Homo sapiens: one gene and its partner. The protein of the gene in region 1 purifies or fractionates together with the protein of each later gene. This does not show direct contact. Each region holds a gene or a part of one and is shown on either strand. Other genes may lie near its edges.

Region 1 (4,414 bases):
ATGGCGGATTGTGGTAAGTTTAAAATGTATACTATAAACCCTAAAGCAACCTAAGATAACACAACAGTTATAGTTAAGCCAGTAAAGGAGATAAAAAGTACTCAATCAAAATAAGGCAGAAAAAGATAATAAAGGACAAATGAGACAAACAAAAAACAAATAACAAGATGGTTTATGTATATGTAATCCCAGCCATATCAATAATCACACTAGATATGGGTGGTCTAAGCACCCTAATTGAATGCCAAAGATTGTCAGATTGAATGAAAAAGCATGACCCAACTATATGCTGCCTACAAGAATCCTTCTTTATATGTAAAGACACAAACATGTTAAAAGTAAAAGGAAGGAAAAAGATACATCAGGCTAACACTAATGAAAAACAAAGCAGGGTAGCTATATTAACATTAGGCAAAGTAGAGTTTGGAGAAAAGAATATTACAGTGATAAAGAGGGTGATTTCATGAAGCTGAAGGGAAAAATACATCAGGAAGACATAACAAAGCTTAACATTTATGCACTTAAAAACACAGCTTTGAAATACACAAACCAAAACCTGATAGAACTACAGGAAGAAATAGAAAAGTTCACAACCATAGTCAGAGATTTCAATACCTCCTTCCTAATAATTGATAAATAAGTATACAATCAGTAAGTCTACAGAAGACTTGAATAACACTATCAACAAACCTGGCTTAATTGACAGTTAGAGAACATTCTACCCCAAAACAGCAGAATATATGTTCTTTTCAATTATACATGAAACATTTACCAGGAGAGACTATATTCTAGTACATAAAAAATATTTCAATAAATTTAAAAGTATTCAAGTCAATTCAAGAACAGAGTATGCTCTCTGACCAGAGGGGGAATAATTAGAAATAAATAACAGAAAGATATCAGAAAATCCTTGAATAAGCCAGGCACAGTTCGCACACACCTGTTGTCTTAGCTACTTGGAGGGCTAAGGCAGGAGAATTGCTTGAGGCCAGGAGTTTGAGGCCAGCCTGGGCAAAATAACAAGACTCTGTCTCCTAAATTAAAAATTAAAAAAAGAAAAGAAAATCCCCAAATATTTAGAAACTAAAGAATATTACATAACCCTAATTAAAATACAGAAAATAAATAATCCATGATTCAAAGAAGAAAGCAGAGTGAAATTACAAAGTATTTTGAACTGAATAAAGGTGAAAATGGAACAGCAAAATTGTGGGATGTAGCTAAGGAAAATTTATAGCATCAAATGCTTACGTTAGAAAAGAAGATCATTTGCAAATCAGTGATCCCAACATCCAACTTAAGAAACTAGAAAAAGAAGAGCAAATTAAACCCAAAGTAAGAGCCCAGTAGGCAGAGGTTGCAGTGAGCCGAGATCAAGCCATTGCACTCCAGCCTGGGCAACAGAGTGAGACTCCGACTCACAAAAAAAAAAAAAAAAGAGAAAAAGGTTCTTCAGAATTAGAATAGTCTGATGCACTTCAAACACTTTGAAAGAAATGCACTTCAAACATTTTAAGTCGTGTGTATTAAAAATAATGATTTAGAAAACAGTAATGTTAAGAAGAGGTCCTTATGTTAGCTGACTTCATGGATAGAATATATTTTAATTAACAGTGATTACTTCAGTGATTGCTTCTTTATTTCTTAAAAAGTAGTTTGATCTTAAGAAATTTCAATTATTTCCTAGAAATCTATTCATAGGAAAACATGAAATCAAATTTCAGGCCAATGTCCATCTAAAATTCAAATAATTTAGAATCTAAATTATCACACTTAAGTAGGGTGAGTTAATAAAATATGTTTATTTTCTTCCTTCTGACAATCTCAAAATGTATTAGAAATCTTCTCTTTGCAATTGCAAATGCAGATCTAAAATTTATCTTCCCTTTAGCCATAAGGGCCTAAATGATATTGAGGAAACAGGTTATCAGCTGCATACTGTTGATATTTGTGGAGATTTTAACATAAGCCTCTTAAAATAATGCTATTTTCCTGATCATATATTGAACATTATCTAATCAATCAATTTTCAATCATATGTATGTATAATTTAGGAAAGCATTTTCTAAAATCACATTTGATTTGTTTCTCTAAAGTTATATATAATTTACTATGTGAATTTTTTTAAACCTACACCAAAGGAGGAATGGATTTTTTTCAATTGATAAACCCTATTCAAATCTGTGTGTTTGATGTCAGGATTATTTGGCTAGAATCAACAACAATGTCACTTCAAACTTCAGCTCTAACATTTCTACATGTGGAACTATTTGATTCACTTAACACCTGTTAAAAAAATTCTTAAGTGCCAGATCCTGTGAGGTACTGTGATGATTATAAGGATGAAAAAGACATGTTCCCAATTCTCAGTGTATGGTCTAGTAGAAAATTTTATGGCGTGTATTCAACACTTGTCAGTATGAATCTTAAAAAATTTATCAAAGTTTTTTAATTCTTAAGACTAAAGTTAGCAAGTCTCTGCATTTGTCTTTATAGCACTTTATCCAGTTTTTTGGGAGTGATTTTGGAGTTTGGAAATAAACTTTTGAAGGATTCACATGAGTAAAAGTCCTTAGTAGGCTGCTGTCATGGAAGATTACAATGAAAATTATTTGTTTAGACTGAAAAAGGAAAACATTTGTGTTAATTCTGTGCGTGTGTGTGTATTGGGGTTTGCATTCACCCTATTAAAACTGAGCTTCTAGATGCCTTATGTAGAACCTTCAAAAATGGTTATGTATATGTCTTCCCTGCAGGATCAGCCTCCAACTTCAGCTTTTTCCGGTGGATGAGGTCTCTCTTGCTCCCCTCCTGCAGGTCTGTGCCAATTTGGAGCCAGTACCAGAATGGATGAGTGTCCAGAGTCCTGGGAGGTGCCAAGGGTGTCCCATTCCTGGCTGGGCTTGGGCCTGGATTGTGGCATGGGAACCTAACAACTGGGCACCTCCGGGAGACTCAGATGTTGCTCCTGCGTGCACTCCACCACACTCGGCCCCCAGATTCGGCTCATCAGAAGCTTCCTCTAGGCTCATGTCCTCTTCCCTTCTTATCCTCAGTCATCAAGAACAGAGGCTTTATTTAGAATCTGGTTGCTGGGGTGATAAGTCACTACTCTCAGTGAGTTTACAGTCTAAGACACATTCACATCAATGCATAATCACACACAAGATTAAAGCCCAAGGGAAATGTAACGCCAGGAAGCACATTCTTCCATCTGAGTCAGAGGTAGTTGACATGACTGGGTTGGGGACAGTGCAGAGGCCAAGTATAGAAATAAAGTGGAGATCCTGGAGGATTTCTGTGGGACCTCTATGGTCAGATATACAGGAAAGGAGAAAAAAAACTTTCCTGAGAAATAGAAGCCTCATAGAGAGGGTATATTTCACATGTGCCCTAATCTCACTCCTTCTCCTCCACTCTTGCAGTATCACTGCTTCTTACCTTTTAAGGCCCTGGGATTCTGGGGAATTACACCCACCCTCTGTCCCCTTTCAATATCAGTGAGGAGCTAGAGCTGCAGGCTAGGAAAATCCAGGCAGAACCCAACCGAGTGTTCATTTGGTTGCATTTTGTTGGTTTGTTTTTGAGACTCTAGATGTCCGGGTTGTACTTGCTAATATTTCCACCCTGCATGTTCAGACATTGCTAGTGGATCATGGGATCCTTTCCCATTGATCCCAGATGTAACTTCATAATCCTTTTTTCTCCTCATTTTAAAAATTATGGTAAAATAGGGCTGGGCGTGGTGGCTTACGCCTGTAATCTCAGCACTTTGGGAGGCCAAGGTGGGCAGATCACCTGAGGTCAGGAGTTCAAGACCAGCCTGGCTAACATAGTGAAACCCCATCTCTACTAAAACTACAAAAATTAGTTGGGCATGGTGGCGTGCCTGTAATTCCAACTTCTAGGGAGGCTGAGGCAGGAGAATCGCTTGAACCCGAGAGGCAGAGGTTACTGTGAGCCGGGATCGTGCCACTGAACTCCAGTCTAGTTGACAAAGTGAGACTCCATCTCAAAAAAAAAAAAAAAAAAAGTGAAATACATGTAACGTGAGATGTACCATCTTAGCCATGTTTACGTGCAGTGTGCAGTTCAGTGGCATTAAGGACATTCACGTTGCTGTGCTATCATCACCATGCCCATTAAACACTCTGCATTCCCAAGAATCCTATTTAAGACAACTCTTCACAAATAATTGCCAATCTATTCAAGATGGCACAAGAAATAAAGCCTTCGTGCTGGAGCTTGGGATGACAAGAAGCAGCAGCAAGGGCTACAGACACCAGCAGGGACAGGGCCCAGGGATGGAGGCTGGGGTGCATGGGGAGCACCCTGTCATCTGCTTACTTGGGCCAGCTGGTCTCAATGTCTCATGTGGAGCTGCAGAGAGGGTGAGTGATCTTTCTGCCTCTTG
Region 2 (4,144 bases), about 110 Mb from region 1:
CTCCCAGGTCATGCATAGAATGTTGAACCCCATCCCCTGCCCATGACAGCCCTGAACAGCAGCTGCCAGAAATAAGTAAGTCAACAGGGCTGTTTTCTTAAACCACCTCACTGGCAGAGTGAAGCACCGCCCTTCTCGTCCTGATTAACGAGGCAGCTCTGTTCCATCATGGCAGCCTCTGCTCCTTCCTCAGCGCAAGTGGACAGCACTGTGCCGTTGCCTAAATGCTGCTCAGATGTTAGTGGAGAACTAGTGCCCTCTGAATGTGCAGAAGTAAATTGCCGTTTCCCCTGCTGACAGGGACAGAAGACAGGCATTAGTGGGCCTAGCCCGTCTGCCGTGCCCCTGGATGCAAGGTCTGGAACAAATGCTGAAATTCTGACTTGAAGCTCCCTGTGATGCCGATGGCATCCTCTTCCATATGATATGTCCTTGGCTTTACCAATCCTGGCTGCATCTCAAAGCTTTGAGCCGCCCTGGGGCCCTGCTGGAAGACATGCAGGGGCAGGTGGCATTTGCAGCCCAGCCAGCCTGTGCAGGCCTGGTGGAATTTGGTGTGGTGGCCATCGGGCCTGGCCCACACCCTCTCGTCTCTCCCCTCTCTAGGCGAGTGCACCCCCACCCAGAGGGAAGTCATCCAGGCCTTGCACCCAGAGACCCTCATCAGCTGCCAGTCCCAGTTCAAGCCGGCCGTCTTTGATTTCCCATCTCAAGATGTGTTCACCGTGGAGCCACAGTTTGACACTGCTCTCGGTAATTGCGAGGATTTGAAAGTGAAAGGGACTTGGAGACAGTCTCTGTCTTCTGGGCATCTTGCGGCTTCCACGTGCCCAGCTCACCATGGCCGTCTGTCCAGAGGGCAGAGATTGTCAGGAGCCCAGCCTGGGGATTGACGCCAGGGGGACTTGGGAGGACTGCTGGTCACAGAGGGTATCCTAGCTTGGCCAAGGCCTTTATAGGGGATTCCCAGGAGGACTCCTGGAGGAGGTGACTTCTCACCTGGGCTTTGGAGGATGCATAGGAATCCCCTGGTTAGAGAAGCAGGGAGAAGAAATGACATCAGTGCACGGGCAGGAGAGGGGACAAGACAATACACCCTTGTCTTCGCAGGCCAGTACTTCTGCTCAATCACAATGCACAGGCTGACGGACAAGCAGCGGAAGCACCTGAGCATGAAGAAGACAGCTCTGGTGGTCAGTGCCTCCCTCTCCAGCAGCCACTTCTCCACAGAGCAGGTGGGGGCCGAGGTGCCCTTCAGCCCAGGTCTCTTCGCCGACCAGGCTGAAATCCTTTTGAGCAACCACTACACCAGTTCCGAGATCAGGGTCTTTGGTGCCCCGGAGGTTCTGGAGAACTTGGAGGTGAGTGGCATCTGCATGCCTCAGGCCAGGCCGGAGTCAGGGGCATCAGGAAGGCCCTGGAGGAAGAGGGAATGTGGTGTGGATGTCCTGGGCCAGCTCTCTTTAAAATTTATTTTTACAATTAGAATTTTTAAATTGAAGTACTCTTTTCTTTTTCCATAGCACTGTTGCTGTCTCTCAGGCTGCGTGATTGTATTAATTGTTCTGACCGCTGCTGGTCTTCCCCAGCTACAAGTTAAGCTTGTGGGGGCAGCAGTGAGAACCCCAGAAAAGGTGCCAGTGAGCGTGTGGTGCGTGGCATCGCAGAATTCAGTGCAGGAGCATCTGCCACAGAGCAGGGAGGAAAGCCCTAATCCCTGCTGGGACAAGTCCCCTCTCTCCAGGCCTCACTTCCCCCATGACTAAGTCACGGGGTGGGATTGGTGGGTGAATGATCCCTCAGGCCCAGAGCCTGGCAGGCTGGGAAGAGTTCGGGGGTGAGAGAACCAAGGAGTTCCTCGGCATTTCCGCCTGCTCCTCCTGCCTTGCTGCAGCCAGCGTGATCGCATGTTCTGCAGAGGCAGGGAATGCTCAGCATCGCTGATGAGGGAGGAGGGCCAGCCCGCTGGCGGCGTGAGCAGAGCTCGGGCTGCTACCTTGGAGAGCTGGTGCTTGGTGATACTTCATGTTGGTTTAGCCTTTTTTTTTTTTTTTGAGATGGAGTCTTGCTCTGTCGCCCAGGCTGGAGTGCAGTGGCGCAATCTGGGCTCACTGCAAGTTCTACCTCCCAGGTTCATGCCATTCTCCTACCTCAGCCTCCCAAGTAGCTGGGACTATAGGTGCCTGCCACCACACCTGGCTAATTTTTTTTTAGTAGAGACGGGGTTTCACCATGTTAGCCAGGATGGTCTCGATCTCCTGACCTTGTGATCTGCCCACTTTGGCCTCCCAAAGTTTTTTTTTTTTTTTTTTTGAGACGGAGTCTCGCTCTGTCGCCCAGGTTGGAGTGCAGTGGCACTATCTTGGCTCACTGCAATCTCCACCTCCCGGGTTCATGCCATTCTCCCACCCTTGCCTCCTGAGTAGCTGGGACTACAGGCGCCTGCCACCACATCCGGCTAATTTTTTGTTTTTTTAATAGAGACAGGGTCTCACCGTGTTAGCCAGGCTGGTCTCGATCTCCTGACCTCATGATCTGCCCGCCTCAGCCTCCCAAAGTGTTGAGATTACAGGCGTGAGCAACCGCGCCCAGCCTGGTTTAGCCTTTTTGTAAGCAGCAGTTGATTAGAATTAAATGAGCTTGAATTTGATTCTGACATTCATATTGATTTGTCCTTCCCTCAAAAAACACCCTGAGTATGGACAGGGCTTCCCGACTCTGCAGAGTACACGCCGTCCATGAGCAGTGCCCAGGTGTCATTACCTGCCCATGAGATGTGACCTGGGCAGGGGTCCCCACCTGTACCCTTGGGCCCCAGGAGGGAAGCCCAGCATGTCAGGCTGAAGCGGGGGTGCTTCCAGAGATGGCCATGCAGAGCAGCCCTCCCGCCTCGGGGTCCTGAGGCCCCGCTCAGTGGTCCCCCCACTCTGCAGAATGTGCACCCCCAGCTCTGATGTCTCTTCCAGGTGAAATCCGGGTCCCCGGCCGTGCTGGCATTCGCAAAGGAGAAGTCTTTTGGGTGGCCCAGCTTCATCACATACACGGTCGGCGTCTTGGACCCCGCGGCTGGCAGCCAAGGGCCTCTGTCCACTACCCTGACCTTCTCCAGCCCCGTGACCAACCAAGCCATTGCCATCCCAGTGACAGTGGCTTTTGTGGTGGATCGCCGTGGGCCCGGTCCTTGTGAGTCACGGAACGACATCATCTGGGACAGACCAGGATGGGGAGGGACAGGCAGGAGTGGTCCTGGCTATCAGTAGAAACCTGAGGTGTAAGAAATGGAGGAGTCAGAAATGCAGAATGTCCCTCAAAGTGATCGCTGCTCATTGGGGCCATGATGCAGGCTTTAGTTGCCCAGCTTTCCCATCTGTTCTCAACATGGCAGCCACAGGGGCTGTGCCCCTCTGCTCAGCAGCCTGCGCCAGGAGAAGAAGTGCCAGGGTACCAAGAACAGCTGTGGGCCCGGGCCTCCAGCAGGTGGCCTGGCCCTCTGAGACCACCATCCTTACATCTAAGAGGGACCTGTGGACTGCCCTGTAGACGTACAGTAGGGCAGGAACGTGATGGGATGCCACAGTGGGCCTGGTGGTTTTGGTAACTCATCTTCCCATTGATGGCAGATGGAGCCAGCCTCTTCCAGCACTTCCTGGATTCCTACCAGGTCATGTTCTTCACGCTCTTCGCCCTGTTGGCTGGGACAGCGGTCATGATCATAGGTGAGGAGGCTGCCTGTATCTCTGGGTCTGTTCCCCTGCCCCGACCTGCTCTAACCAACCCTGTGCTCTTGCAGCCTACCACACTGTCTGCACGCCCCGGGATCTTGCTGTGCCTGCAGCCCTCACGCCTCGAGCCAGCCCTGGACACAGCCCCCACTGTGAGTAGCCCCCCTGCAGGCACAACCAGGCAGAGCTGCTGAGAAAGAGAAGAGCCCTGGGGGAGGGGTCGAGGCTCCTGAACCCTAAGTCTCAACAGGCCCTTGCCTGGGCCAAAGGAGCCTGAGGCCCAGAGGACAGATGTGGGAGCCAGGAGGGTCGGGGCAGAGGGGCTGCCAGTCCTGGTTCAGCAAGAGCTTTCCCCAGGTAGAGCCATGCTGGGTGGAGGTATGGGCAGCAAGGAGCTCTGTCTAGGCAGGAGTGCATGCTAG

Evidence for each region.
Region 2: the proteins of SLC12A8 (region 1) and NUP210 purify together in Homo sapiens (affinity purification with mass spectrometry; one large-scale study listed by BioGRID and IntAct). This does not show direct contact.

The regions. Positions count from the first base shown.
Region 1 is NC_000003.12:125,086,713-125,091,126, reverse strand, and holds part of SLC12A8 (solute carrier family 12 member 8), read left to right. Parts: intron 1-2,756; coding exon 2,757-2,817; intron 2,818-4,414. UniProt on the Homo sapiens protein: Cation/chloride cotransporter that may play a role in the control of keratinocyte proliferation.
Region 2 is NC_000003.12:13,318,802-13,322,945, reverse strand, and holds part of NUP210 (nuclear pore membrane glycoprotein 210 precursor), read left to right. Parts: intron 1-606; coding exon 607-753; intron 754-1,110; coding exon 1,111-1,361; intron 1,362-2,966; coding exon 2,967-3,183; intron 3,184-3,620; coding exon 3,621-3,716; intron 3,717-3,790; coding exon 3,791-3,874; intron 3,875-4,144. UniProt on the Homo sapiens protein: Nucleoporin essential for nuclear pore assembly and fusion, nuclear pore spacing, as well as structural integrity.